4 separate regions of the Homo sapiens genome follow, and all the other regions are linked to region 3. Evidence: fine-mapped expression QTL. A gene starts in region 3. Each other region holds a variant in brackets. All regions are shown on one strand. Distances are from middle to middle. Region 1 has its middle 20 kb from the start of JMJD1C. Region 2 overlaps JMJD1C (jumonji domain containing 1C). Region 3 holds the start of NRBF2 (nuclear receptor binding factor 2). Region 4 overlaps JMJD1C (jumonji domain containing 1C).

Evidence for each region. PIP is the estimated chance that this variant, and not a neighbour inherited with it, causes the effect.
Region 1: its variant is fine-mapped to the expression of NRBF2 in whole blood (INTERVAL, PIP above 0.99).
Region 2: its variant is fine-mapped to the expression of NRBF2 in whole blood (INTERVAL, PIP above 0.99).
Region 4: its variant is fine-mapped to the expression of NRBF2 in whole blood (INTERVAL, PIP above 0.99).

Annotation. Positions count from the first base shown.
Region 1 is chr10:63,481,896-63,489,364 of GRCh38, reverse strand. It overlaps a transcript of JMJD1C not described here. Among named protein-coding and RNA genes, the nearest start is that of JMJD1C, 20 kb to the right of the region's middle. The variant GTTTTTTTTTTTTTTT/T (reference allele first, on the strand shown) is at 3,196.
Region 2 is chr10:63,333,285-63,340,753 of GRCh38, reverse strand. All of the region lies in intron 2 of JMJD1C (jumonji domain containing 1C), which reads left to right. Among named protein-coding and RNA genes, the nearest start is that of MIR1296, 36 kb to the left of the region's middle. The variant C/TC (reference allele first, on the strand shown) is at 3,146.
Region 3 is chr10:63,129,047-63,136,515 of GRCh38, reverse strand. NRBF2 (nuclear receptor binding factor 2) reads right to left here and starts at 3,188. Exons shown (of 4, transcript NM_030759.5): 1 at 3,016-3,188. The coding sequence starts at 3,045. RefSeq lists silencers at 2,642-2,911, 3,122-3,371.
Region 4 is chr10:63,263,645-63,271,113 of GRCh38, reverse strand. JMJD1C (jumonji domain containing 1C) reads left to right here. Exons shown (of 26, transcript NM_032776.3): 3 at 6,350-6,463. Among named protein-coding and RNA genes, the nearest start is that of MIR1296, 110 kb to the left of the region's middle. RefSeq lists enhancers at 195-695, 696-1,196, 1,512-2,035, 2,036-2,561. The variant C/G (reference allele first, on the strand shown) is at 4,016.

The DNA.
Region 1 (7,469 bases), 350 kb before region 3:
GCGGTAGTGCGATCTCGGCTCACTGCAACCTCTGCCTCCTGGGTTCAAGTGATTCTCCTGCCTTAGCCTCCTGAGTAGCTGAGATTACAGGCGCCCGCCACCATGCCCAGCTAATTTTTGTACTTTTAGTAGAGACAGGGTATCGCCATTTTGGCCAGGCAGGTCTCAAACTCCTGACCTCAGGTGATCCGCCTGCCTCAGCCTCCCAAAGTGCTGGGATTACAGGCGTGAGCCACTGCGCCCGGCCTCATTTTTTACTTTTTAAATGACTAGCAACACAGTAGGTTTGTTTACCCCAGCACCACCACAAACATATGAGTAATGTGTTTTGCTAGGATGTAATGCCAGCTATGACATCATGAGGTGATAGGAATTTTTCAGCTCCAGCATAATCTTATGGGACCATCGTCCTATATGCCATCTGTCATTGACCAAAAAATGTCATGTGACACATGACTGTGATAAGGATATATCTCAATGAATTTTTAAAAACTGAACACACTCATATAAACAGCACCCAGAATAAGAAACAGCACATTACCAGCACCCTCAAGCTCCTCTCAACACCCACTGCAGGTTATCAATTTCCCTTAGCAAAATTAGGCTGTTTTATGCCATACTATAACATATCTTCAGTTGCCAAATAATGGGAAAGATAGAGTTAATCTCAGCTTACTCGTATATAAGTCATATAAAACACTATTTTTATTTTCTCTTTATTGCTGTCTTTTTAATTAAATGGATATAATGAGTGCTGAGAGCATGTCCCTGCTGTGTAGTGTCAGTAGTGTTATCTTTAAATATAGTACAGTTTTTTTTTTTTAACATTCATTTTCAACTCATTTTGAAAAGAACCTGGGCTTAATGGTTTTTCAAGAAACGTTAGGAAAGCCTTGTTGATTTTTCTTTTTCTCTAATGTATGTTTTATATTTTACCTAAGAAAAAGAAGCACCATATTTTTTTCCCACACTGGTCTTAATCTAAGAAAGGTAGCTTTAGAACATTGATATTTTAAAAATATTTACAAATACTATTTTCCCAGTTGTAGGGAGGCTCCACATGGTTAAAGTCTTCTGGTCTGATGGATCACCACTTTGTTTGAAATAAGGGCACATATTAGGAGGGCCTTCCTTTGAAGTAGAGGTATTTGCATACATAAATCTATGCCGTGACTATAAAGTACTGAGGCTGTGTGTACTTTGTGTGCAAACAGATGTCTGTAAACATATGGGCCAGTCTCTTCTCCCACCCCATTTTTTTGTAAGTCATGGCTCCTGCGTTTTGGTTCAGAAAGTGTGAATTTGGAGATTCACTCATTCTGGGGTGAATCCCAGCTCTGTCATCCACATCGTATGACCATATACACTTAACTTTCACCTCTCTGTGTCGCAGTGTCTTCATTTATGAAATTGGAATAATATACCTTTCTTAGAAGTATTACATGAGGAATAAATGAAATAACAAATGTGAACTAGCATCCTGGTTGGTTCATACAACTTCACAGTAAACGATAGTTTCTTCTCTGTCACTCAGAGTTGAAAACTGCAAAGTCTATCACATTATTCCCGATGAATGTAGTAATGTCCTAAGAGTGATCACTCATTGATGACATGTCAGCCATTTGAACATTTCAAACACAGAGGCCACTTTGTCCCCCTCATTGATCTGTCAGGCCTCTCACATACTAAATCTTTGCCTTACCCACCTTCGTGGTCTATCACCTTAACTCTGATCAGTGTCTTTTAACTTTCTTGTCCCTTTGTCTTCCCATTGATGTGCCTAGGAAATCTGCCAACCTGGATCAGTCAGTGTTTCTCAGCATCAGCACTATTGACATTTTGGATCCAAATAATTCTTTGTTCTAGAGTGCTGTCCTTGGCATTATAGGATGTTTAGCAGCATCCTAGCCTCTATCCACTGCATGCCAGTAGCAACTCTTTTCCTGCAGATTGTGACAAACAAAATTGTTTCCAGACATTGCCAAATGTCCCAAGGGGAGAAAATTGTTCACCCCAGCCCTCCTGTGTTGAGAATCACTGTCTATATGCTTTACTTGCCCCTTCATCTTTGGTCCTGATGAAAAATGACACAGGTCATTGTCACTATAAATCCATATTTTGTAATTTCAACTGGGTCCTTAATTTTGCCTGGTAGTCCTTTAATACTTCCTAGTCCATTCTCCCATTTTTCATGGGGCTATTTTAGATCTCCTTTATTCTCTTCAGACTTCCTATATCATACCTTCCTCTTATTCTTAACAGATGACCTTGTCTTCTTTTCAAACAGAAAGTAAAATAGAAGCTATTATCTTTGTCCTCCTTCAATTTTGTGATGCCAACCATGAACTTACCTAAATCTGAGTTCTGGCTTCAGCATTTAGCAAATGTTGTGACCTTTGGCAAGTTAGCTTTTAAGCCTCACTTTATTCATCCGTATCATTACTGTTAATGATAGAAATCATGTAAGGTACTTAGTGTAGCGCCTTGGCCATAGTGTCTGATGATGATAAGGGGTAGGGAATGCCACAGGTGTGGAAGGTGGTGCTATTTTATGTAAAGTGCTCAGAGAGCCCCATTTTAGGGTAATATTAGAGTAGATTTCTGAGGAAAGTGAGGAGTAAGCCATGCAGAGTTATTTGGAGTTATTTGGAGAAAGTCATGCAGTTCACTTTTCAAGAAATGTACTGTAAGTTAAGAGACAGAATGGTAACTGCAGGGTGATATGCAGTTAAGGGAGTGGGTGGGTTTGTTGTTTTTTTAGATGAGAGAGATATAAACATTTTTAATTGCCCATAGTAAGGTACCATTAGAGGAGGAAGGATTAAAGTTACAGGAAGAGATAAATTAAGCTTATTTCAATAGACTGAATTATTTCTATCCATTTTCCGTGCCACAGGTAGATTAGTTATTCTAAATGCTGATTCCTTTGCTTCCTTGCTTAAAGTCCTTAAATGCCTTCAGTTTCCTTTAGTCTAAAATACAGCTTCACAAAGTGCTTTTTACCAGGTCATGGTCAGTTGGTCCCTGCTAACATATCCACCTTCAGCTCTCAGCACTCGCTCTATCCATGCTTCTTCTGTCTCCCAATCTCCCCTGCCCCTGCTGTCCCTTAAACGTGCTAAGCTTCAGTCATACTCTAATGAATTTCTCAAACTTCCTCACATGTGGCATGCTCTCTCAAGTTTTCTGTTTTTT[GTTTTTTTTTTTTTTT/T]TTTTTTTTTTTTTTTTACAATTGCTTGAAGCCCTTTACTTTCCCCTTCTCCACGTCTTTGGCTGACTTTCATTCATTCTTCAGGCTTTGTCACGTCTATCACTTATTTTCTGACTACTTCCCTGACCCCAATCCTGGATTAGTTGCCCCTTCTGTGTGCTGCCATCCATCCATTTAATATCTTCTGTTGGACTTCTCACTTTGTGATACTAAATTATATAGGCCGTTTTATTTGTCTTGTCCCTACTGTGCTGTCAACTTGGTGGGAACAGAGGCCATATATGTCCTGTTCACTTTTGGATCCCTGTACAAGGCAACAGTACCTGGCATACAGTAGGCCCTTTGCAAGTATTTACTAAGTAAGTTAATAGATTTAATTGCTGGTTAGATAAAGGAAAATATTAGTTCATTCATATAGCACTGTTATTTAAAATTACCCTGTGCTGGATGTTGTGCCAAAGGTCCCCAGGCACTGCTTTCAAATCCCAGTCCTGGAAATGAAACATGCACAGTGATGCTTTTCCAAATATGAGTTCTCCTAACTCAAAATGGAGTAAATTTGGATTTATTTTTAATACCTCTTTGTTAATTTTGAGAATTTTATTTCTAGGATACGATGTCACTCATTATTCTACATCAAACTGTCACACATGCTTAGAAAAAAAGAAACAAAGCATTGAAGGGGAGAGGGGATCTTTTCTCTTTCTTTTCTTTTTTTTCTCCCTGCTGCTGTTTTGTCTGAATAAAGACTTGTGAGGTAGAAATGGAGACTGTAAGAAAGGCTTGCATTCTCTGAGCACAACCTGATAGCAAGGGGATTTTGAAAGAATAGGTATAGAAAGAGGAGAGCACAGTAAGTATTTCAGGAAGAGCCATAGATACTCTCATCTGTGTTTTAAAAGTTTTTCTAGTAGCGTTTCATTTCAAAAACAGACAAACAAAAAGCAATGAACACTTAGCATTTACTCTGCACTTATATGCCTGGCACTGTGCTAGTTGTTTTGAATTTTTTATTTAATCATTTTAAATATTTAATTAAATTTATAATTTAATTTATAAATAAATTATTTATTTTAATCTTTATGAGGCTAGTGTTGTTACCATCCCTTTAGTGGGTTTACATCTATTTCTGGATTTCTTTTTTTTTTAAACCCATAATGCCAAATCCTAATTCACTCCTCCAGTGAATTAGGGGAGGGGAGAGCAGCATGAACCCTAGCTTGCTCTAGTGTCCTTTGGAGCCTCTAGGGCCTTGCAGTAGTGGAATCGGGAAAACTGAGGAAAGGTGAGTGTTTCCTTCCTTCCTTTTATTCCCCCCCTCTATTTTCTATTTGAGTCTGGCCATTGTCAGAAATATGTCATTAATATCTCATAATCAAAGCTCAATAGAAATTAAATGTACAGTACTTATTATAATCAATTTTAGATAGATATATAAATTGGCATGGATAGTGCCAATTTTTTTTAAGTTAAGAGACAGTAAAACATCTATTCTTGCCTTTTTTTTTAAGTTAAGAGACAGTAAAAGTAGGGTTGTCACTGCTTTTATTGGTTTGATCATCAAGATCTTATGTTTTCAACTCCATTTTTTTAACAAAATCTCAAGTTCAGCTACAAATTATCCTATCACAAAGGCCACTATTGAAGTTCAAATAAGTGCTGTGCTTGCTCTGAAGTGGGAGGGTATAAATAGCGTGAAAAGGGATATATTTGGAAAAGTTACATACACTAGAAGTTACATACTGAAAATTATTCAATGAGGAAAGCAGTATGATCTCAAAAAATACGAAGTCCATTATGAGTTTTTGAAATGGTGGTTCTTAGGATCATTCTGGTGTTGTGAATTTTTTTATTTTTATCTGTCTGTCTTATCTATCTATCTTATCTATCTATCTATCTATCTATCTATCTATCTATCCATCCATCCATCCATCCATCCATCCATCCATCCATCCATCCATCCATCCCAAGGTGCTGGGATTACAGGAGTGAGCCACCATGCCCAGCTAGTGAATATAAACACTGCCTTTGGAAGCTTGCAATCCAGTCCTGGTTCTGTCACTTCCTATCACTGTGAAGTCATGTTCATAACTTAGGCATGTTATTCTTTCTTAGCTTCAGTTTCCTCACCTGAAAAAGTAGAGATAATATGTATTCAGATTATTGTTAGGACTAAATGATATAATTCATGCTAAATGCTTATTAGAGGCTTAGTAGTTATGACATGCTGAGAAGTATTAGTGCATTTACTGAAGTACTGTGCTAGTGATTGGCAACATAATGTGTCTGGTTTAAGATATTAAAATTTTTAATCCTAATGAAGAAAGGACAAATTAAAAATGAATCACAGTTAAAATGTATACATACATTATTGAGAAATGAATTACATTATTTTGGGTTCTGCAGAGAATCAGGTAAGTATAAAATAGATGCCAGCAGCAATATCATTTGCAAGTATAATCAAGATACTAAAATGCATTTGGGGAAGATAATCCATCTTTTTGTGAAGTTTTCAAAAAATGGCAAAAGGGGGAGGGATGGGAGAAAGTTGGTTGTTATTATAATGCTACTTTGTTATAAACAAAAATTTTCTCACAAAGTAGAGCAATTGTCATTTGACAATGTCTGGAGACACATTTGGTTGTCACATGGAGGGTGAGAGTTGGGGAGGTAGGTACTGCTGAAATCTAATGCGCAGAGGCAGGGGTGCTGCTCAGCTTCCTAAAATGCACAGAGGATAGCCTCCCCCTCCAAAACTTATGTTTCCTAAAATGTTACTAGTGCGAAGGCTAAGACTTTCTGATCTAGACTTATGCAACCGCTCACTTGGAAACTAATGTTATGGTATGTTTTGTGGTAAATACTTTGTAGAAATGTCTGGATTGTTTTAATCTATCATACTTTATCTGTAACTGACAATGGTGTTTTATCCTCTTGAAATTCTATTGGTTTTCATGGAGGAACTAAAATTAGTAAATTTCTCAGATAATTACTTGTTTTCATGATGAATAATGAACAATCCAGTTGACCAATTTTAAAGACTATTTTGATTGACATATAGTTACTTTACATTAGATTTTATAGTTATAATTTGAGATGAGTTCCTTTATGATGATAATTATTTAGACTAGAGTTATTTGGAGATTTTTCAAAATGGTCATGATTGATTAGATTAACCATACATAGTAATTACAGATTTAATTTTTCAAAAATTAGGAAGCATTTCATTGATTTCTTAAAAAAGCAAACGGGCTGTTACTGACCTTTCTTAGCAATAGTTAATTGAGTGCTTCCTTTGCTCAACTATGTTCTATGCATATATTATGTGTTCATTATGTGATCCCCACGCACAGCAGCTTCTTTATATAGGAATTATTCCCATTTCATAGATAAGAAAGCACAGAGAGATCAAGTGATTTGCATGGTAACACAGCTAGTAAATGGTGGAGCTAGGATTAGAAGTCAGGCAATGTAGCTCAAGTTTGGGGTCTCTCTCTCTCTCTTTTTTTTCTTTTTTTTGAGATGAAGTCTTGCTCTATCACCCAGGCTGGAGTGCAGTGGCGCGATGTCAGCTCACTGCTACCTTGGCCTCCTGAGTTCAAGCGATTCTCCTGCCTCAGCCTCCTGAGTAGCTAGGACTACAGGTGTATGCCACTGTGTCCAGCTAAGTTTTGTATTTTTAGTACAGACTAGGTTTCGCCATGTTGTCCAGGCTGGTCTTGAACTCCTGACTTCAGGTGATCCGCCTGCCTCAGCTTCCCAAAGTGCTGGGATTACAGGTGTCAGCCACCATGCCTGGCTCATTTGCTGTCTTAACCACAATATTATTAAAATATTATACTGACATTTAACCAAGAATGTTTAAGTACTTTCTGATTATTTACTTGTCTCTAGAACACATCAGTGAATAGTTAAGTCCTTAATGTCTTGGTAAGTTCTTGGAAACGTCTACTTAAAAAGTGAAACAATGTATAATGAAACCAATTTTTTTTTCCTCATCAATGTCGTAAGGAAATGAGGTTGATTGAAACAACTTTGGAGAACCTTCTGTACTCCTTTCATTTAGTTGCGGTTTCCAAGAACCTATCCACAACATTAAGTGGGGACTTACTATATAGCCAAAAATAAAATGAAAGGCATATAATTTTGAAATGTACTTGTAGCTTTGGAATGTACTGTACAGTGAGTTCGTCATACATCTAGATGAGGATGTAAAAGAACAAAAACTTGGAATTTCCCTCCCTCTCCATGCAGCTTTG
Region 2 (7,469 bases), 200 kb before region 3:
AGGCTAGTCTCAAACTCCTGACCTCAGATGATCCACCTGCCTTGGCCTCCCAAAGTGCTGGGATTACAGGGGTGAGCCACTGCGCCTGGCCTATCCTTTTGTTTCTTCACGTTATATTAATATATGGTGGTCATGCCAGCACCATACTGTTTTGTAAGACATGTTACAGTTACACTGCTCTCCAGTTTCTCTAACAACTTGACTTTCTGTGATATAAACATAAATGCCTTCTCTCTTTTTAATAACCGTTACCCGTAGGAATATCTGAAGGACTTTTTGACATTTTCAATAGTATCTTTACACCACAGAGCAGAGAATAAGTAAAAAAACAAAAAACCACACACACACAGTGAGCAATGCACATAGGTCTTGGCTCCATGTGGAGCCTGCCATTGTCATGTCCTGCCTGTGTATGTGCCATTTTGGCCAACTTTATGTGCACACATGTGTGGGGTAATCTGGGCGTATTCAGAAAAGATATATTGCAGCTAAAGGGGGCTGAGAGGGTCTTTTTTTCCCTCAGGGTTGCTGAATAAACTGTGTGTTTGTATGCCTGCATTTTGTCTGTGAATTGTCACATGAGGTCAGGTGTGGAAATTCCCACATGTGGTGTCATTTTGGTGCTCAGACATCAGATTTTCAGATTAGGGATGCCCAACCTATATATGTGTAATTTACTTATTATTTATTTATTGAAATGAAGTCTCACTCTGTCACCCAGGCTGGAGTGCAGTGGCGCTATCTCAGCTCACTGCAACCTCCGCCTCCTGGGTTCAAGCATTTCTCCTGCCTCAGCCTCTCAAGTAGCTGGGACTACAGGGACTACAGGTGCATGCCTGTAATGAGAATTTCAGCTGAAGGATAATTAGAACAGTTGTCAAGGAGTAAAAAAATCTTGCAGTCATCATTCAGTCCAGCTTCTCCGCAGTGAACCTGAGCTACTGGTACAAAATGTTTGTGAGACCACATCCGGCTAATTTTTGTATTTTTAGTAGAGACGTGGTTTCACTATGTTGTCCAGGCTGGTCTTAAACTCCTGACCTCAAGTGATCCACCTGCCTTGACCTCCCAAAGTGCTGGGATTATAGGCGTGAGCCACTGCGCCTGGCCTACATTTAATTTTTTTTTTTAAATTAGAGATGGTGGTCTCACTATGTTGCCCAGGCTGGTCTTGAACTCCCTGACTCAAGGGATCCTCCCATCCCTGCCTCTGAAAGTGCTGGTATTACAGGCGTGAGCCAGCACACCTGGCCTCAACCTATATACTTAATGTATTTCTTGTTTTTGCATCTACTCTAGTCATTATCTCAGCCTGCAATGTGTTTTGTTCATTCCTCCACCATTTTCTCATACCGTGTATATGCAAGTGTTATTTTTTCAAGGTTTAGTTGAAGCTCTATTTTTTTTGTCACCCTCACTTTTCTTGATCTTATGTCTAAGAATGAGAAATGGTTTAAAGAAAAATACAGGATATAGCTAGTATATAATTGCTTACAGCACTGTTTCCTAAGATGTCTGTATTTGCCTTAGTGCAGCAAGTCTCTTCAGTGAATCTCTTATTTTGCTCCTTTACATTGGTGTATACAGTACCATCTTCTCCCTGTTGGGCTGGCTAGATCTGTTAGGCAGGTGGTAAAGTGGTATCTACCAGCTTGTAGAATGGTAATAGAAATATATTTTTTGTTTTTTTACCATAAACAAGGGGCCTCTTGGGATGAAGAAAACATATTTGCTCATTCTCACATCTTCATAAAGTGAAACAATAATCTTTCATACTACACAAGATGAAGAATTAAACTAAAGGCTGGGTGCAGTGGCTCACGACACCTGTAATCCCAGCACTTTGGGAGGCTGAGGCGGGTGGATCACCTGAGGTTGAGAGTTCAAGACCAGCCAGACCAACATGGAGTAAACCCTGTCTCTACTAAAAACAGAAAGTTAACTGGGCATGGTGGCACATGCCTGTAATCCCAGCTACTTGGGAGGCTGAGGTAGGAGGATCGCTTGAACCCAGGAGGCAGAGGTTGCGGTGAGCTGAGATTGCACCATTGCACTCAAGTCTGGGTAACAAGAGCGAAACTCTATCTCAAAAAAAAAAAAAAAAAAAAAAAAATCTAAGGAGCAGAAAGATATTTGATTATTCAAAATGTTTAAAGTTTGTAGTGGCTAATGTAGCATGTGTAGTCAGCCCTTAAGCTTCCTTGAAATGATGCCACTATATCTAGGTCTATCTTAGCGGTGCCTACTTAAATTTTATCTGAAAAGTTTCAAAAACAGCCAGGCAACAACAACAAAACAAATCATTAAGATCCAAATCAAGGGCTGAGAATGGTGGCTCATGCCTGTAATCCCAGTACTTTGGGAGGCTGAGATGGAATAATTTCTTGAGGCTAAGAGTTCAAGAGCAACCTGGGCAACATGGTGAAACTCCATCTTATAAGAATTTTTTAAATAAGCTGGGCATGGTGGTGCACATTTGTAGTCCCAGCTACTTGGGAGGCTGAGGCAGGAGGATGGCTTGAGCCCAGGAGCTTGAGGCTGCAGTGAGATCTGATTGCACCAGTGCACTCCAGCCTGAGTGACAAAGTGAGACTCTGTCTCTTAAAACTGATGATATTCAGATTTACTCTAAAGAGCTCCAGATAAACTCTTTAGAAATAGTATTTCTGTTTATTTATGTTGGTCTTTTACCGCTGTGAAAAGAAAACTTGGGTTAGTGGTCAGCTGACATGGGTTTTACTCTCAGCTTTCTTTATGAAGATTATGAGCTTGTATGTTATTTAACCTCTTATAGTTTTACTTGCCACATCTTCATCTTGAGATTCTTATGGTGATTAAGACAATGAATATGAAGTGGTTTTAGTTTACAATTTTAAATTATCAAATACTTTGCGAAGAGATTTCTTACTATAGTAATAACAACAGAATGTCACTAAATATACCTTACCTCTGGGAGAAAAGGGCATGAGAGCATGATCACACATCTTCTGGCTCATCAGCTTGCTCTTCCTCAAGTGGTAGGAAGAATGAGGGAATCTGTAATCTATATGAGGCTTCCCCAAGGAACAGGACTGCCACTGTTAGTGGATTACTGTGAGGAACAATAGCGGATTTTTTTTCTTTTCTTTTTCTTTTCTTTTCTTTT[C/TC]TTTTCTTTTCTTTTCTTTTCTTTTCTTTTCTTTTCTTTTCTTTTCTTTTCTTTTCTTGTCCTCTCCTCCCCTCCCCTCCCTTCCCCTCCCTTCTCCTCCCTTCTCTTTTCTCTTCTTTCTCCTTCCCTCTCTCTCTCCCTCCCCCCCCCCCGCCTTCTCTTTCTTTCTGACGGAGGCTCACTCTGTCACCCAGGTTAGAGTACAGTGGCAAGACCTCGGCTCACTGCAAGGTTTGCCTCCCAGTTTCAAGCAATTCTCCTGCCTCAGCCTCCCGAGTAGCTGGTACTACAGGCGTGTGCCACCACGCCCGGCTAATTTTTATATTTTCAGTAGACATGGGGTTTCACCATATTGACCAGGCTGGTCTCAAGTGCCCAGTCTCAGTGGTGCCCGTGCCGGTCTCAATGGTGGAGTTTCTATGATTTTACAAAGCATTTCTTAACTTGGAAGTTAAGAGGGCTAGAGTTGGCCAGGCATGGTGGCTCACACCTGTAATCCCAGCACTTTGGGAGGCCAAGGTGGACGGATCACCTGAGGTCAGGAGCTTGAGACGAGCCTGGCCAACATGGTGAAACCCCCTCTCTACTAAAAATACAAAAATTAGCTGATTGTGGTGGCGGGCACCTGTAATCTCAGCTACTTGGGAGGCTGAGGCAGGAGAATCGCTTGAACACAGAAGGCGGAGGTTGCAGTGAGCCAAAATCACGCAACTGCACTCCAGGGGCAACAGAGCAAGTCTCTGTCTTAAAAAACAAACAAAAAAAGAGGGCTAGAGTTGAATGCAGTGGGCACTAATTAGGAATTAGCTTTTCCTGGCTCACACTCTGTTTATTTGCATTCTTCTATAAGGGAAAATGACAAGTTGATATCGGATTGTCAGGGTTTTCTAATATAGGATTTGTGTGAAACCAAGCAGCCATAACACCTTGATGATGTCATTGAGACAGATGGTGAGTGCTGACCCTTTATAATATTTGTCCTTTGTTTTTTAGATTAACTATCTCATTCTTCTTTTTTATTTATTCTATAGATTTTAAAGTATCCTAGGAAATAGCTTTAGGGATCGTGATGTGGAAACTAATGGAAAATTAAATGTATTATTAGGATTGAAATCTGGGTAAGTAGTTTTATTTATTTATTATTATTTTTTGAGACAGAGTCTTGCTCTGTCGCCCAGGCTGGAGTTCAGTAGTGCAATCTTGGCCCACTGCAACCTCTGCCTCCTGGGTTCAAGCAGTTCTCCTGCGTCAGCCTCCCAAGTAGCTGGGATTACAGGCACATCCCACCATGTCCAGCTAATTGTATTTTTGGTTGAGACGGGGATTCACCATGTTGGCCAGGCTGGTCTCGAACTCCTGACCTCAGGTGATCCTCCTGCCTTCGGCCTCCCAAAGTGCTGAGATTACATGGTTAATACAATTTTAAGGGTGGTATTAGATATTTGTGTTTCATAGACGTGGTTTTTTTCTTTTTTTCTTATTTTTTTTGAGACAGGGTCTCACTCTGTCACTCAGGCTGGAGTGCAGTGGTGCGATCTCCGCTCACCGCAGCCTCCGCCTGCGAGGTTTAAGTGATTCTCCTGCCTCAGCCTCCCGAGTAGCTGGGACTACAGGCACAAGCTACCTCGCCTGGCTAATTTTTGTATTTTAAGTAGAGATGGGTTTTCACCATGTTGCCCAGGCTGTTCTTGAACTCCTGACCTCAGGTGATCTGTCTGTGTTGGCCTCCCAAAGTGCTGGGATTACAGGCGTGAGCCACGGTGCCCAGCCAAAGTGTTTTTTTTTTAGGAAAATATTATGCCAGGCGCCGTGGTTCATGCCTGTAATCTCAACACTTCGGGAGGCCGAGGCAGGCAGATCACTTGATGTCAGGAGTTCAAGAACAGTCTGGCCAACATGGTGAAACCCCGTCTGTACTAAAAATACAGAAATTAGCTGTTGCAGTGGCAGGTGCCTGTAATCCTAGCTACTTGGGAGGCTGAGGCAGGAGAATGGCTTGAACCCTGGAGGCGGAGCTTGCGGTGAGCCGGGATTGTGCCACTGCACTCCAGCCTGGGCGTCAGAGTAAGACTTTGTCTCATAACAAAACAAAAAAACAAGTATGATGGTTCAGATTGCACATTGCAGTGAAAATGCCAACTTTTAAGGGGAATTATATTTGGAATCAATTTTCTTTTTAACTGAATATTAAATGGAATATTTAGCTTTTTAACTGGAATATTAAGCACTTCTTTATATTCTCAACATATGGTAGTGCAGAGGTCTTTTTTTGCATTGCTTTGCCCCCATGCCTACATTATCACCATTTTTAAACAGGGTATCCAGGTTGTTTGTCTTACAGCTTTCATTGTTCAGGTTGAAGCAACATTCTCTGATAACAACATTCAGAGGCACTTTGACAGACTGCTGTGTCTGACCTGGAACAACAATCTCTGATAGCAACATTCAGAGGCACTTTGTCAGACTGCTTTGTCTGACCTTATTACCTGTGAGGTAGTGTCTCCATTTTTCTGGGTCAGTTCTTTTTTGTGAAGGACTGGAACTCCTTAGTTAGGAACAATATTTTTTTTTTTTTTTATTTTTTTCCAAAGACAGAGTCTTGGCTGGGCATGGTGGCTCACGCCTGTAATCCCAGCACTTTGAGAGGCAGAGGCGGGAGGATCACCTGAGGTCAGGAGTTCAAGAACAGCCTGGCCAACATGGTGAAACCCTGTCTTTACTAAGAATACAAAAATTAGCCGGATGTGGTGATGCGCACCTGTAGTCCCACTACTTGGGAGGCTGAGGCCTGAGAGTCGTTTGAACCCGGGAGGTGGAGGTTGCAGTAAGCTGAGATCACGCCACCCCTCCAACCTGGGTGACAGAGCGAGTTTGAGTCTGTGTCTCAAAAGACACAGTCTCATTCTGTTGCCCAGGCTGGGGGGCATTGGCACAATCTCAGCTCGCTGCAACCTCCACCTCTTGGGCTCAGGTGATCTTCCCAACTCAGCCTCCCGAGTAGCTGGGACTATAGCACATACCACCACGCCTGGCTAATTTTTGAATTTTTTGTAGAGACAGGGTTTCACCATGTTGCTCAGGCGGGTCTTGAACTCCTAAGCTCAAGCTATTCACCTGCCTAGACCTCCCAAAGTATTTGGTGGAACAAGATTTAACAACAAAATAGATAATTTTTTAAAACTCCAAAATCTCTGTAGTGTATTCCTGACATATAGAAGTATAGATCATATTCATCTGTGTTCATTAGTATTTTAATGAACATTAAGGTGGTATGATTTGATTTATTAAATGAAATCCAAATTACATGTCTTTTCCCTAATGTAAAAAGAGTTACATCAGTCATTTAAAATTGAACACAAATTTATATTCGGAAGAAAACAGAAAAAACCATGTCCTCTGTCTCCTTTATTCATCAAAACTTGTGATTCTAATCACATTTAACAGTACTGAAAAAGTGGTACATGCTGAAGAATAATGGAGTATGTCTACCACCTCTTCTTGGGTCAGCATCTAATGTATTTTGTGACAAGCCTTGTGTCAGTACAGTCTCTGAAGGTTATTTAGGAGTGCAGTGAATCACTTCTGTTACTTACTTTCTTTTTATCAGTATACCAAATAGCCTCTGATTCTAATACATTATTTTTTTTAATTGATCTGCTTTGTGTTTTCATTTTGGTATTTGGATTTAGAAAACTGTCTATAGATACAGATATTTTGCTGGAAAAATTGTATTTAAATATTCAAAATTTAACTAAGAAATTATATCAAGGTGAAATGACCCTTATGTTTCATTTGCAAGGATTGTAAAAGTCTCTGACAATTTTAAGTGCTCAAATGAAGAGATAGTGTAGAAGCCTTTTCTTCGTTTTTTTACAGAAGAATAATTATGTGGGCAATGCTCCTAGGTTTCTGCCTCATAATTGTCATGTAGATTACAATTAAATTAGAAGTTTTTGCAGAGCAGTGAGTGAGTTTACCACAAGATGGTAACATTTTATTCAGATTCATGCTTTGGGAGACATTTATGGTCAGTAATAGTGTTTTGCCTTTCTTTCTCTCTCTTTTTTCTTTTTTTTGAGATAGGGTCTCACTTTATTGTCCAGGCTGGAGTGCAGTCGTTGCAGCCTCAACCTCGTAGGCCAAGCCCTTCACCTGCTCCAGTCCCCTAAGTCATTGGGACCACAGCCACCATGGCTGGCTAATTTTTCTTATTTTTTGTAGAGAGGAGGTTGCGCCCTGTTGCCTGAGCTGTTCTCCAACTCCTAAGTTCAAGGGCTCCTCTTGCCTTGGCCTCCCTAAGTGCTGGAATTACAAGTGTGAGCCA
Region 3 (7,469 bases):
GTGATAAGTCCTTATACAATGAATTTGGACTACACTACGACGTCATTTGACAAAGCTTATTGCATTAGTAACTCTCTGAGTATAGAAAAAGAAAAAGCTTGTATAATACTAGTGGAATTTTCAAAGACATTCAAATTATAGCATTGAGAACTCTCATCTTGAGTCAACTAGATACTAAGTTAGGTGTTCACTGACATAAAAGAATGTCAGAATTTTCATAGCCGGGCAGGGTGGTGCATGCCTGTAATCCCAGCTACTCAGGAGGCTGAGGCAGAGAACTGCTTGAACCCGGGAGGTGGAGGCTGCAGTGAGCCCAGATCGCACCACTGCACTCTAGCCTGGGTGACAAAGCGAGACTCCGTCTCAAAAAAGAAAAAAAAAAAAAAAAAAAGTCTGAATTTTCAAAAACCTCATCTTATAAAACTGTGAGTGACAATTCTGAGTGCCAGAGGCCTGTAATTGGTACTCATTCAAGTAACCGTCAACGTCTGTTCTACTGTTACCTTCCAATAAACAACTATGCTGGAAATTAGATCTTTCAAGACTCAAATGGTTTAAGAATTCAAGGTGTCCGCCGGGCACGCTGGCTCACGCCTGTAATCCCAGCACTTTGGGAGGCCAGGCGGGGGGATCACGAGGTCAGGAGATCGAGACCATCCTGGCCAACATGGTGAAACCCCGTCTCTACTAAAAATACAAAAATTAGCTGGGCGTGGCGGCGCGTGCCTGAAATCCCAGCTACTCAGAAGGCTGAGGCAGAAGAATCGCTTAAACCAGGGAGTCGGAGGTTGCAGTGAGCTGAGATCGCGCCACTGCACTCTAGTCTGGTGACAGAGAGAGACTCCATCTCAAAAAAAAAAAAAAAAAAGAATTCAAGATGCCAAATTTCTGATACTTGCCTACATAAATTTTATGGCTGAAATACGGAGTTACGCTAGCCTGCTTAAAAAGACTCTGTCGAAACTCGCTCCGTTTTATGGAGGAGAATTTAAATGGTATTGCCACCATTTAACTAATTTTTCCTGAACTGGTAGTGATTCTGCAGTTCTATCTGCAACTGTCACCCAGTTCTAGTCTCCTTTTAAAACATCACACATTCGTGGGGCAGTTGGCGGGGGTTATTCTGCAGCCAAATAATGTGAAGCTAACTAGAACTGAACCAATGCTCATTTGGCAAGGACACCTGAACTCTGAAGCACTTCGTAAACAGCTGATTATTTCTAGTAATACTCCTGTGAAGTTTCAGTATTGAGCCATCCACTGTATTTCATTGCCAACTATATGTCGCCTTAAAAACAAGAAAAGTGCAAGACAGTTCCCTGGTTATTTGAGTCAGAGTCTCGCTCTGTCGCCCAGGTTGGAGTGCAGTGGCACAATCTCGGCCCACTGCAACCTCCACCTCCTGGGCTCAAGCGATCCTGCCACCTCAGCCTCCCGAGTAGCTGGGACCACAGGCGGGCGCCACCACGCCAGGCTATTTTTGTATTTTTTGTAGAGACCGGGTTTCGCCATGTTGCCCAGGCTGGTCTCGAACTTCTAAGCTCAAGTGATTCGCCCGCCTCGGCCTCCCAAAGTGCTGGGATTACAGGCGTGAGCCCCGGCGCCTGGCCAGTTCCCTGGTTAAAAAAAACTCGCAAATGTAGTCCAATTCGTCTTAAGTGTAAATACCTACCACCTGGGGCAAGACCCAACTTAAAAGGGAGGGGCGCCTCACAACAGTTAACCTGGCACCAGTGATTTGGTCCGAGAATCTTAGGCTTTTAAAGCTCAAGTCCAAACCTTTATTCTACAAATAGATTTTAAATTAAGGGCTTATGGTCTGGTTATAATCGCTAACTCTTACACTGTACTATGTACTTAGTACAGTTCTAAGTGCTTTACACCTATTTACTCCTTTAATCCTCCCAAAAAACCTGAAGCCGAGTGAAGCCAAGTAGTTTGCCCAAGGTAACACAGATATCAAGTGACGAGGTTAGAATTCAAATCCAAGCAGCATAGCTTCAAAACCTAGAGTCTTAAACCACCTGACTCTACTGCTCTTCTAGGACTCAGAGTTCTAATGTGAGAAAAGAATCCTCTATAGAGCTTTCTTTCAATTCCACCATCGCAAATGAATTGCAAACCTGTGACTCAAAAGTTCTTCCTGTGTGCAACCTTAAGTAATCTGACTTTTACATCCAAAATGGGTAACCTCTCTGGAAAACTAAAAGATGCAATGGCCAGTCTGAAAAGAACTCATGCTTCCCGTTGTTAGTGGGGTTCTGTTGTGTTGTTTTTTAATTGCAACACCTGAAACGCCTTAAAACACAAGTAAACAGGCTATCAGCCATTTTCCTGAGAACAGCAAACACCTATTACACTTTCATGATGCCTAAATTGATGAATCTGAGCTAAATACAGGAACGGCTGTCTTTTTCCCAGCTGTCTCTAATATATTTGGAAGACGGTAGACTCAGTTTATGCATGTGAATGTATGTGAGAAATGAGGGGGAAGTGGAGGGTGAGGAGGGGGAAGTGGAGGGTGAGGAGGGGGAAGTGAAGGGTGAGGAGGGGGAAGTGGAGGGTGAGGAGGCTATTCACTCCTCCACCTCTCCAAAGCGGGGCGACTCAGACTCAGACCCTGCTGCTAGAACTTAAAACCAGTATCACACCATTTCTGCCTTGGCCGGCTTCAGTGCCTCTCCAGGCTGTAGGGAGGTGGCTACGTGGCGCTAAGAGGACTTCCCCCAGCCAGAGAGGAGGTGGCAGCCCCAGGTGGTGGCATCCCCTCGCCCGGGGCCCCGCGACAGGGGGCGCCAGGACTTCCCGGGGATCCCCCAGGAGGGCAAAGTCTGAAGTGGCTAGCCTGGAGCCGCAGTTGGGCCAGGGCCTGCCTAGCAGCCCCTCACAGCCTCTGCGACCACTCCTGCCAAACCAACCTCCCAGCCTAAAGGGTTAGCCGACGCGCCGGGGACGGGGCCGGGCTCCTGAGGCAAAGGCACCCAAGACGAACGCTATATTCTGTGGGACACTCACCAGGTTGAGGGGTCCTTCCATTACTTCCATAGACCCCGGGGTAAGCGGCGGCCTTAGGAAGGGGAGTAGTGGCGCCGGGGAACATGGAGGGGACTGCAAGGGAGCTCGACGCAGCCGCGGAGACTGCGGCCCCTCTCTGCGCCCCAAGAGCCAGCGATAGGCGCTGAAGGAGCAACAACCTCACCACTTCCTCCTCCGGCGCCGCGCCGCGGGCCCGCCCCCTGCGCCACCGCCGAGGCCACGCACGGCGCCATGACGTCACACGCGCAAAAGGCTGGTTCAAGGTGGGAATGAGGACAGGCAGTGGGTGGGGCCCAGGGAAGGCGGGGCACCAGCTGATGTACGCTTGCGAGCGGTCAATCTTTCCTCTCGCGAGAAGCGTTAGTTTAGGTTCTTAAAGTCTACACTGAAGTCACGTGAGGAGGTACAGCCTTGCTGTTGAAGACTTGAAATGGCTGTCTTCTGCAATTAGCTTCTCACGTTTCCTTTTAGACTGACTTTTCCTTAAATCTGCTAATCGTTACACCGTTACTTGTGGTCCTGTCCACACCTTTATCATTGTACATGATTCATTTTTTCAAAAGGCCGATTTGAGCAATTCTAGACCATGCACTGGACTAACCCCCCTAGAGGTCAGCACACTCGAATGATTTAGGGCTCTGCCCTCAAGTTGCTCACAAACTGATAGGGAAACAATTTTGGTCTAGCCAAATATAATACTGCATTCATTTAACAATTATGTGCCAAACAAAAGCTAGGTTCGTTCTGTCATGGAATTCACTGACAAATAGTTGTGATTTATGCTGGAAAGGGAACACATAGGGAGCTGTGATAGAGTAACCAAGGTGGAGTTGGGTGGTAAAGGAAAGCCTTTCATGGGGGGCGTGATTTTTTTTGAGAAAGTGTCTTGCTGACGCAATCTCCACTCACTGCAACCTCCCTCTGCCCGCCCCCTGCCCCAGGCGATCCTCACACCTCAGTCTCTTAAGTAGCTAGGAACTACAAGTGCTCAGGCCAGGTTAATTTTTGTATTTTTTGTAGAGATGGGGTTTCGCCATGTTGCCTATGCTGATCTTGAACTGCTGAGCTCAAGTGAGCTCAATGATCCGCCCTCCTGGACCTCACAAACTGATGGGATTATAGGCATGAGCTACCGCACCTGGCTAAGGGCGTAATCTTTAAGATTAAACCTTAAAATGCCAGTTAAACAAAGACCCTTCTCGACAAAGGAAATGTCTTATGCCTCAACTCTAAAGGCGGGGAGGTCGGGTGGCGGGAGCTGCAGCATTTCAGAGAGATGCAAAAGAAGATACCAGAGAGATAGGAAACTTCCAAAACATAGGTGTCCTTGCAGTGCACAATGAAACATTTGAATTTTACTCAAAGTGCATTGGGAAATAAGTAAAGGATATTAAGCTAGAGAATAATCTGCTTTAATTTACAGTTTTGAAAAGATTAATTTCCCTGTAATGTGAAGAATAGATTGTGGAAGGCCTAAGGAAAAAGAACCAAGACAAGCTAGTTGATTGACTAATTATGGGCGCTCAGACTGGAATGGAAGTAGGGAAGATTGGGTCATGCATCCACTCATTACATAGTTATCATGTTTCTACCATGTGCCGGAAACCTTGGAAGAGAAGTAGATATATTCAAGATATATTTTTGGGCATCAGGTTGAGAGGAGTTAGTGATGGAATGGCAGTAAAGCATACAGAAAATGGAAGAATCAAATCTCGTATTTAAACAACCAAGTGGCCTAGCACACTGGCTCACCCCTGTAATCCCAGCTCTTTGGGAGGTCAAGGAGAGCAGATCACTTGAGGCCAGGAGTTTGAGACTGGTCTGGCCAACGTGGTGAAACTTCATCTCTACTAAAAGCACTAAAACGTAGCCAAGTGTGGTGGCGCGTGCCTGTAATCCCAGCTACTGGGGAGACTGAGGCAGGAGAATTGCTTGAACCTGGAAGGCAGAGGTTGCAGTGAGCTGAGACCAATCACACCACTGCATTCCAGCCTGGGTGACACAGAGAGACTCTGTCTCTAAAAATAAAAAAATAAAAAAGTAAACAACCAAGTGGACAAGATAGTGAGAGACAGGACTAGCTGGATTTCCTAGGCCAACTAAGAATTCCTAAACCTAGCTGGGGAAGGTGACCACACCCACATTTAAACACAGGGCTTGTAACTCAGTTCACACCCGACTAATCAGGTAGTAAAGAGGGCTCACTAAAATACAAATTAGGCTAGAAGCAGAAGGTAAAGAAATAGTCAAATCATATATCGCCTGAGAGCACAGGGGGAGGGACAATGATCAGGATATAAACCCAGGCATTCGAGCAGGGAGTGGCAACCCCCTTTGGGTCCCCTCCCATTGTATGGGAGCTCTGTTTTCACTCTATTAAATCTTGCAACTGCACACTCTTCTGGTCCATGTTTGTTACAGCTTGAGCTGAGCTTTCACTCACCGTCCACCACCGCTGTTTGCTGCCATCACAGACCCGCCGCTGACTTCCACCCCTCTGGATCCATCAGGGTGTCCACTGTGCTCCTGATCCAGCGAGGCGCCCATTGCTGCTCCCAATCGGGCTAGAGGCTCGCCATTGTTCCTGCAAGGCTAAGTGCCCAGGGTTTGTCCTAATCGAGCTGAACACTAGTTGCTGGGTTCCACGGTTCTCTTCTGTGACCCACGGCTTCTAATAGAGCTATAACACTCACTGCATGGCCCAAGGTTCCATTCCTTGGAATCCGTGAGGCCAAGAACCCCAGGTCAGAGAACAAAAGGCTTGCCGCCATCTTGGAAGTGGCCTGCCACCATCTTGGGAGCTCTAAGAACAAAGACCCCCTGGTAACAATAGGAAGGAGCTAATTTGTATGGAAAATGAAAAGTTCTATCTTGGGCACTGTATTAATTTCCTATGACTGCTGTAAGAAGTTACTACCCATTTAGTGGATTAAAACAACAGAAATTTGGAGGCTAGCAGTTCTGGAGGCTAGAAGACCAAAATAATTTTTTTTTTTTTTTGAGACGGAGTCTCGCTCTTTCACCCAGGCTGGAGTGCAGTGGCTCGATCTTGGCTCACTGCAGGCTCCACCCCCGGGGTTCACGCCATTCTCCTGCCTCAGCCTCCCACATAGCTGGGACTACAGGCGCCTGCCACCTCGCCTGGCTAATTTTTTGTATTTTTAGTAGAGACGGGGTTTCACCGTGTTAGCCAGGATGGTCTCGATCTCCTGACCTCGTGAATCACCCTCCTCGGCCTCCCAAAGTGCTGTGATTACAGGCGTGAGCCACCATGCCCGGCCAAGACCAAAATAATTTCATAGCGCCAAAACAAAGGTATACAGCAAGGCCTTGCCCCCTTCTTTTCCAGCCTCTGGAGCTACATTCTTTGCATTCCTTTGACTCACAGCCCCTTCTTCCATCTTCAAAGCCAGCAGCACTGCATCTTCAAAGCTCTTGCTGCTTTTGTCATGTCATTTCCTCTTAAAATCCTTCTGCCTCCCTCTAGTAAGGACCCTGTGAATACATTTGGTCCACAAAATAGTTAAAGATAGTCTTCCTATCTCAAGGTTAACTTAATCATACCTACAAAGTCCCTTTGCCATATGAGGTAACATTCTCAGCTTCCACAGATTAGGACCTGGGTATCTTTCGGACCATTATTGAGACTACCAGAGGCATTGTATCTAAAGCAAATCAATGACATACTCAAAATAATCCCAGAAGGGTTTAATAAACGGACTGTTTTACAAAGGTGTGGCCAGAGTTTAGGTATTTACATGAGAAAAGCAATAACTCCTAGGCTATAAAGAAAGAAATAGAAGGGGCTGGGTACAGTGTCTCACACCTGTAATCTCAGCACTTTTGGGAGGTGGAGGCAGAGGTGGGCGGATCACTTGAGGCCAGGAGTTCAAGCCCAGCCTGGCCAACATGGCGAAACCTCATCTCTATCCAAAATACAAAAATTAGCCAGGCATGGTGGCACATGCCTATAGTCCCAGCTACTCTGGAGGTTGAGGCACGACAATAACTTGAACCTGGGAGGCAGAGGTTGCAGTGAGCTGAGGCCGCACCACTGCACTCCATCCTGGGAGATAGAGCAAGACTCTGTCTCAAAAAAAAAAAAAAAAAAAAAAAAAAGAAAGAGAAATGAATAAGAGGGAAATCTGAAATGAGGAGAAAAATGTAGAATATAGTTTGAAGAAGCACTGACCTTCAATCAAGGACACTATCCTGAGGTGACCTTGCAGGGAGGATCCAGGGAAATCACCTTATTTCCTCTTCCCCTGACTTCCATTGTCCAAACCCAATCAAAAGCCAGAAGGCAAGGGAGCCCATTGATGTAATTCATAAAAATCAGCCTCCAAGGGCAGGGAGCAGGGTAGTAAGAAGTAGAGACCGGATCTGGAAAGAGTAATACAAAATATCTGGCACATACAAATGAAAGATTTCAC
Region 4 (7,469 bases), 130 kb before region 3:
GTATTTTTAAAGTTTCAGTGCATGTTACCATATATAATTCCTCTTTCATCATGTAATTTCTACAATAAAACTGAAACCATTTCAATTAAATTGTAATACAGAAGCGTGGTTGACTTAAGTATATGGCCAGCTTTCCTGCTCTAAGTCAGAAACTTACAAATTTTCGCTGGATGCTCTAAAGGTTAAAATTTAATTATACTGACAAATTAATAGACATAACCTGATGTTTTACATAGAGCCACAAATTTATATTCCATTCCATCTCTGCTCTTTGATTTATTGAGTAGCCAAAGTCAGTCTCATATCATCACGTAAGTCTCCACTATGAAACGAGAAATTACTATAAGGCCTGTCAGGGTGACTCATGCCTGAAATCCCAGCACTTTAGGAAACTGAAGTGGGTGGATCGCTTAAGTTCAGGAGTTCCAGACCATTCTGGACAACATGGTGAAACCCTGTCTCTACAAAAAATACAAAGAGTTAGCTAGGCATGGTGATGCCCACCTGTAGTCCCTTCTACATGGCAGGCTGAGGTCGGAGGATCGCTCGAGCCCAGGAGCCAGAGATTGCAGTGAGCCAAGATCGCGCCACTGCACTCTAGCCTGGGCAACAGAGCAAAATCCTGTCTCAAAAAAAAAAAGAAGAGGCTGGACACAGTGGCTCACACCTGTAATCCCAGTACTTTGGGAGGCCGAGGCGGGTGGATAGCCTGAGGTCAGGAGTTTTTGAGACAAGCCTGGCCAATGTGGTGAGACCCTGTCTCTACTAAAAATACAAAAATTAGCTGGGCTTGGTGGTGCGTCCCTGTAATGCCAGCTACTTGGGAGGCTGAGGGAGGAGAATCGCTTGAACCCAGGAGGCAGAGGTTGCAGTGAGTTGAGATCATGCCACTGCGCTCCAGCCTGGGTAACAGAGCAAGACTACGTCCTCCAAAAAATAGAGAGAGAACTTACTATTAGAGCATTCTTGTCCAGTAGAAATAAAATGTGAGCTACATGTGTGATTTTAAATTGTCTTTACATCAAAATTTTAACATAGGTGTATTAATTTTACAGTATTTTATTTAACCCAATATGTCAAAATATTAGCATATCAAAATAAAATTATTCATGAGATACCTCTTAATTTTTTTTATATTCAATGTGTATTTTGTACATCACACATCTCAATTCAGATTAACTACATTTCAGGTGCTCAGTTGCTACATATGATTAGTAACTACCATATTGGACAACATCAGACAGCAGAACTCTAGAATTTAGATAGATGTTAAGAGACTATATTATATAACACATCTGAGAAATGCATTTTATGCTTTCAAATTGTATCTTAGAACTATCTAGGTTAAGTTGTTTTTTGTAATGAGTGAAAATGGTTGAGGAATATTTTCAAATCTACCAAAATAAATATTACCAGTTTTTTTTTAGTAAAATGCCTATGAGATTGTTGAGATCATTGTCTAAAAATATTTTAAATTGATTTATTTTGAAGTTTTTAATATTTTTAAGGCAAAATGGTTATACTAATAAATAAATCGTGCCCAAAAACATACAAAGTATATTTGATGCTTTATTTTTACCAACTTGAGAGATAGTCACATGTTATTTCTTTTCTGCACTTTCTCACCTTGGTAAATCTGGAAAGCAAAAACTTAGTATTTGCATTTGCTTTATGAAGGAGACAGTAAACTTGAGCTTTCAGTCTCGCCACTAGTCTGTCTTTGTCTGTTGTTAAAATTATGAGCCAGTCTCTATGGCCGCAGCCAAATGAGTAATCACTAGTAATGTGACTCGTGCTGGAAGTGACTCCATCAGCACCTGTGACGGGGGATTAGTTACAGTTTACAGAGCACCGCCTCTTCCCTTCTCTCAGTGTGCCCTAAGCCAAGTACTCGTTCTCATTTGGGTGTCTGCACTGTTGGAAGCTACTGCACTGTGTTTCCACGCAGACAGAGTACAGTGGGAAAGGCTTTCTCCAGCTGATGGATGGCTGTTCTCTTTATTTGGAGTATCTTACTGGTTATGTAAGCGACCTCGAGAGAAATTATCCTGACCCAGATCGGAGGATGCAGTAGTGCTTCAGCTGCAGGATTTCTTAGTCGTTAACACCACAGTGCTGATGACAAAGAGCGAGTTGTAATCCTCATCACTGCCAGGGCTGAGCCAGAGCAGACAGAAAATCGTCATTTGCTCGTTGGAGACTTGTTAGGTTACAGCTCCTGCTTCGTTCTGTGGTCTTGGCTTTTCTTCCTATACAATGACGCCGCTGCAAGTGAGCTCAGAAATGCTTGGTTTGAGAGCCATTTGCCTGTGATTTTTGAAGACTAAAGAAGTATTTACACTAGATACTCTTCCAGAACAAAATAGAAATTTCAGCAAATACTTACTGACCTTTAAAGCCTTGTTGTGGATTTCTGAGATTTAAAGATACTTTAAAATTCTCAAGAACAAAGTACGGTTTGTATTTTTCTGCTTCCTTTTTCTTTTGTCTTAATTTACATTTGGTTTTTCTTCTCAGCCTGAGAAATTAAGGTCACTGCCTTTTATAAAAGATCTGGCCTCAATGTTTTTAGTTTTAAGAATTTTTAACTTTCATTTGTTTAAAAAGGTTTATTGTGTTTGTAGTAATTTAATAACTGTAAATGTTAAAAAACGAGTTTAATTGTTTAAAGTATTATGGCAGAAGTGCTTCAAATTAGGATTTTCAGACTAGTGTTTCAAGGAAAGTGGGGGTATTTGTTTTGTAAGGTTTTTTTTTGGTTATTCCCTTCCCCACCCCCAACTTGTTTTCTAACAGTATCGTGTTTTTCAATAGACCTGCTTGGGTGGGAATTTGGACTTTGTTCTTTCAAGTCACTCCAGTCCTTTTTTTTTTTTTTTTTGGTAGACTAAATCTTAACTTCTAAAATGTTGCTTAGGTTGTTTTCTGCTTTAGTATTTACCTTTGGTGAGATTTATATTAGTATTTTTGCAGTTAATAAGCCTGTTTTTTTTTTTAACTTGGAATTGTTAACTGTTAACCGGAGATTGTTAGAAACTAAGACTGCAGACATAAGCTCCTTGAATTTCCTGTTAAATGTGAAATGGTGAGCTTTAACATCGTTTGTTTGAGCAGCTGAGTTGTGTTTAAGAGCTGTAGCTGATTTATTTTAAAAATGTTTTTCGGGGAGGGCTCATCTGTTCGCGTCTTCCTCATGTGAATGGAATGTGGTGCAGCATGGAGCCCCAAACAGGATACAGTTGTTCTAAGCATTCTTCCTATAGTTTGGTAGGCCCTACTAGAAATGCAGGCTCTCAACTATATTTATTTTGGCCGTAGACTATTTTTAAAAAGTATGTTTAACACTGATAAATGACCTTAAAAAAAACTCTCACTCTAATAAAATTGAAAAAGCATTTTGTTTCAACTGAACATTTAGTGTTAGTAATTTTCATTTTGGTTTTCAAAGGCTTTTTAGAGCATTTGAATGATAGTCTTTTGTGATTAGGGCCATATTCTACTGTGACTTTCATCAGATGTTAGCTCATTGCTTCCCTTTAGGCTGTGGAAGTTACTCATAGAATGATATATCTTTAGAGTGTTGAATTAGTTATGCATGAGTTCTAGTTTCTTTACATTCCAGTGCACCTAGACCCATGAACTATTTACTACAAATTTCATCATACCAGCTGTAGGACCCATTTGTTTTTATTTAAATATGTTTTTTATTATTTTTAAACTTATAATGTTCCTTTGAAATGTACTAGACTAATACAAAAATTAGCAATACTTAACATGGTTGTTTTGCCAGTTAAAAAAACCGGGGTGTATTTTAATATCACTTCATATGTTGTTTGCCTTTCATTTTTCCTTAAAGTAGAGCAGTCACACATATTCACTGTTTCTCATTTAATAAATATTGAAACATTTCTTTTAACAAATACTATAAAAGTATTTATCAGCACTTTTTATTTGCTATTTAAGAAGCATGATATACTTTGGACTTCCACTTGTAAATGATTATAAGTACTCATGT[C/G]CTTGTAAGAGTATTCAAATTTGATCATTGTCAGCTAGTTTTCTTAGATTTCTGGTAGCCAAATTTTACTTGGCTTTCAATGAGACATCTTAAAACGTGAGAATTTTTTTAGCTTAGAAATCCTTTTTTCAAATTAACTTAGAATAATTTAAATCATTGGTCGGCTTGTTGAAATTTACCCTTAGAACTCTGGCCTACCTTGAAAAGGAGAGCTCTCTTCAGAAGAATGTTTTTCATATTATAAAATGACTAGGTCTCATAGGAAATGCAAGCCACCTGTATTATTTGCGTAAGAAAGAGGCACTCCAGAAGGAGAACTTTACTTCTTTTTCAAATCCTACTTAATTGAATTGTATCTTTAGCCACTTAGATAATACCTTTTGTGGACCTTTTTGTTAACCTTCATGAGTTGACCTGATATGGTACTGTTTGAAAAGAAATAGATCATTTGATAATGTTCAAGGATTAAAAGTCCTCTTGAGAAGATGCCAGTGTTTTCTAGTTTACTTAAAAACTAAACTGACAGAGATATAATATGAAAAAACATTTTTTACAGTAGGGATCAGCCGAATATCCCTGTTTATGTTACATATTTCATGTCAATTGGTCACGTAGTGGTGGACACTTTTAAAGCCTAAATACAATAAATGCTCTTGAATTTCTTACAAACTTTTTGTCACTTAAGTAAAATAATAAATAGGATTTTATGAAATCCTATAGGATTTTATGTAATTGAAAAGTGTTAAATGATAACAGTAGAAGGAAATAGCTAAATAATGTGAGGATTTTCTATTTTGAAAATGTGATTTCTCACCCAAATAATAGTAATTTTGATAAATAATAGAGTGCTTAAAAGGTTAGCCTAGGATATGGGAGAGAGGATATTACTGTGACTAGATTTTCTGATCTTAAATATCGAAAATAAGTGAGAATATAAGAGAGTTTTTCCTGTTTTTTAATTAAGAAAATATTATTTGTAACTTCATGATGTAGATAGCATAGAAATAAGACTTGCTTAAATTTAATATTAAATTTTTAACTTTGAAACATTGTTACAGATTGCAGTGAGTCAACCTGAAATTCCTCTTAGGAATTTCTTAAATATAGAAATTAACTCCTTAAAAGCCACTCCAAACCAAACATCTTGAAGTTTTTCCCTGGAGTATGTTTATTGTTATTAACAAAATGTTATATATTTTTTAAGACAGAATAAGAGAAAGGGGAAACACAATGATTTTGAAATGCCTGGTAATTTGTACTGTCTATGCCAAAATCTTTGTTTTGTGTGGAAATATTAACACAAATTACCCTGTAGCTAGAAAGATTTCTCCATGTGATATAGGTAACTTAGAAATTGAGTTGATTATTAATTCTGTTTTCCGAACTTTTTTCCAGTTAAAAAATTTTTTTATAGTAAAGCAGCTGTGTTTTTAAAATGGTGGAATTTTGTTTTCATTTTCAAGTTTTTAGAACAGTACCATGAATATAAGACACTTGTATTTTATTTAATCTTCATCTACTTTGAAAGTGAGTGTGATAGTCATAAAGAAATTTATACATTGTATCCCTGTTTCCTTCCTCTTCCTACCCTGGCTCTGTCCCTGTCATCCCCACCCAAGATACGAGTTAAATCTCATATGTTAAAGGTATCTTCTTAAAGGAATCAAATGACCTTGGATTGACTTTTTTTAAAAGAAGTAGTGGAGATTTGGACTTGACTGCAAAGTAGAGTTTTGTGTAGTACTTCTTACCGGACTCTCTCTACTCCCTTCCTCCATGCTTCTCTCACCGAAGCTGCGGGATTTTTATCTGTGCTTGGTGCAGGGGCGGGGGTGGGAGTGCAAGGGGTGGAGTTAAAAGACCAGATACTTCCTGATCATTTAAAATCCTGCTTAATGTGAATGAGCTAGACAAAAAGTGTACATTGAAATAATAACTACTCTCTTTAATAAGAAATAATACAGTTAAAAAAAAAAGGTGGGGGTAAATAGCTCTACAACCCAGTTTACTGTTTCAAAAGCAATTTCTCTTTTTAAGCAGACATTTTTACACACATGCATATTTTATTACATCCCTTTTTAAAAGTAAACAGTTGGGACTTAGTATACTCAAATATGCCCATATCACATGTAGATCTAGTTTGTTTCTTTTAAATAAACACAGATACCTTATGGTGTAGATAAAAGCATTAGTTTATAATATGAAAATTAATATTAGGTACCCTAAGACTCTGTAGTGATAATGACATTGATACATTGTATTGGTGTGTGTTCCTTCATAATTTCAGGATACTACCCAGAAAATTATCATTAGAAATTTTTTTTTTCTTGGCAGACTTTCAAACCTCTGGTTGAAAGAAATATACCCAGTTCAGTCACTGCAGTAGAATTCCTTGTAGATAAGCAACTGGATTTTTTAACTGAAGATAGTGCCTTTCAGCCCTACCAGGTAAGAAATTTTAGATTACTTTTTAAAATTAAAGGTTAATTAAACTTTATTGATATTCAGACATTCTTTAAACAATATTCTTTAAATATCATTTCATCTAACTTCTAGTTGTGTGAAAAACCCAATGAATGCAGTCAGTTGATTTTGCTTATAGGATAAACGATTTATTAATTCAATTAACAATATATACTGAGAACCTACTATGAGCCAGGCAGTGTTCTGTTGCAAGGAATACAGAAGTAAACAAAATAAAGTATCTGACATTCTAAATAATCATTATTAGAAAATAATTGGTTAAATATTAGTATAAATTGTCTTCAATGCTAAACGTTAAGAATTGGGTAAATTAATATAATTAAATGAGATTAGTGTTTATGTATACCTATCAGTTTAGCATAATAGTTCTTTTTTTAAAGGGGAAATTTTTTTAGATTGTCAGTAATTGAATGATTTTATATATAAATTTCAGTTCTCCATTATTGCAATTTAAATACAAATACATTTAATTAGGAAAACATTTTCCAGTTGACTATTAGCTTTTAATTATGTGAAGAAACTCATCAAAAGTATTAAGCTAAATATTTTTTAAGATTGTTGAAATTACCAGTTAATTTTTTCAGGTATAAGTAAAGCTCACAGAATTGTGTGTGTGTGTGTGTGTGTGTGTGTGTGTGTGTGTGTGTGTGTGTGTATGTGTATTTTTTTTTTTTTTTTTTTCCGTGATGGAGTCTCACTCTTTCACCCAGGCTGGAATGCAGTGGCACGTTCTTGGTTCACTGCAACTTCCGCCTCCTGGGTTCAAGCAATGCTCCTGCCTCAGCCTCCAGAGCAGCTGGGATGACAGGCACACACCACCACGCCCAGCTAATTTTTGTATTTTTAATAGAGATGGGGTTTCACAATGTTGGCCAGACTGGTCTCGAACTCCTGACCTCAAGTGGTCTGCCCGCCTCGGCCTCCCAAAGTGCTGGGATTACAGGCGTGAGCCACCACACCTGGCCTTCAT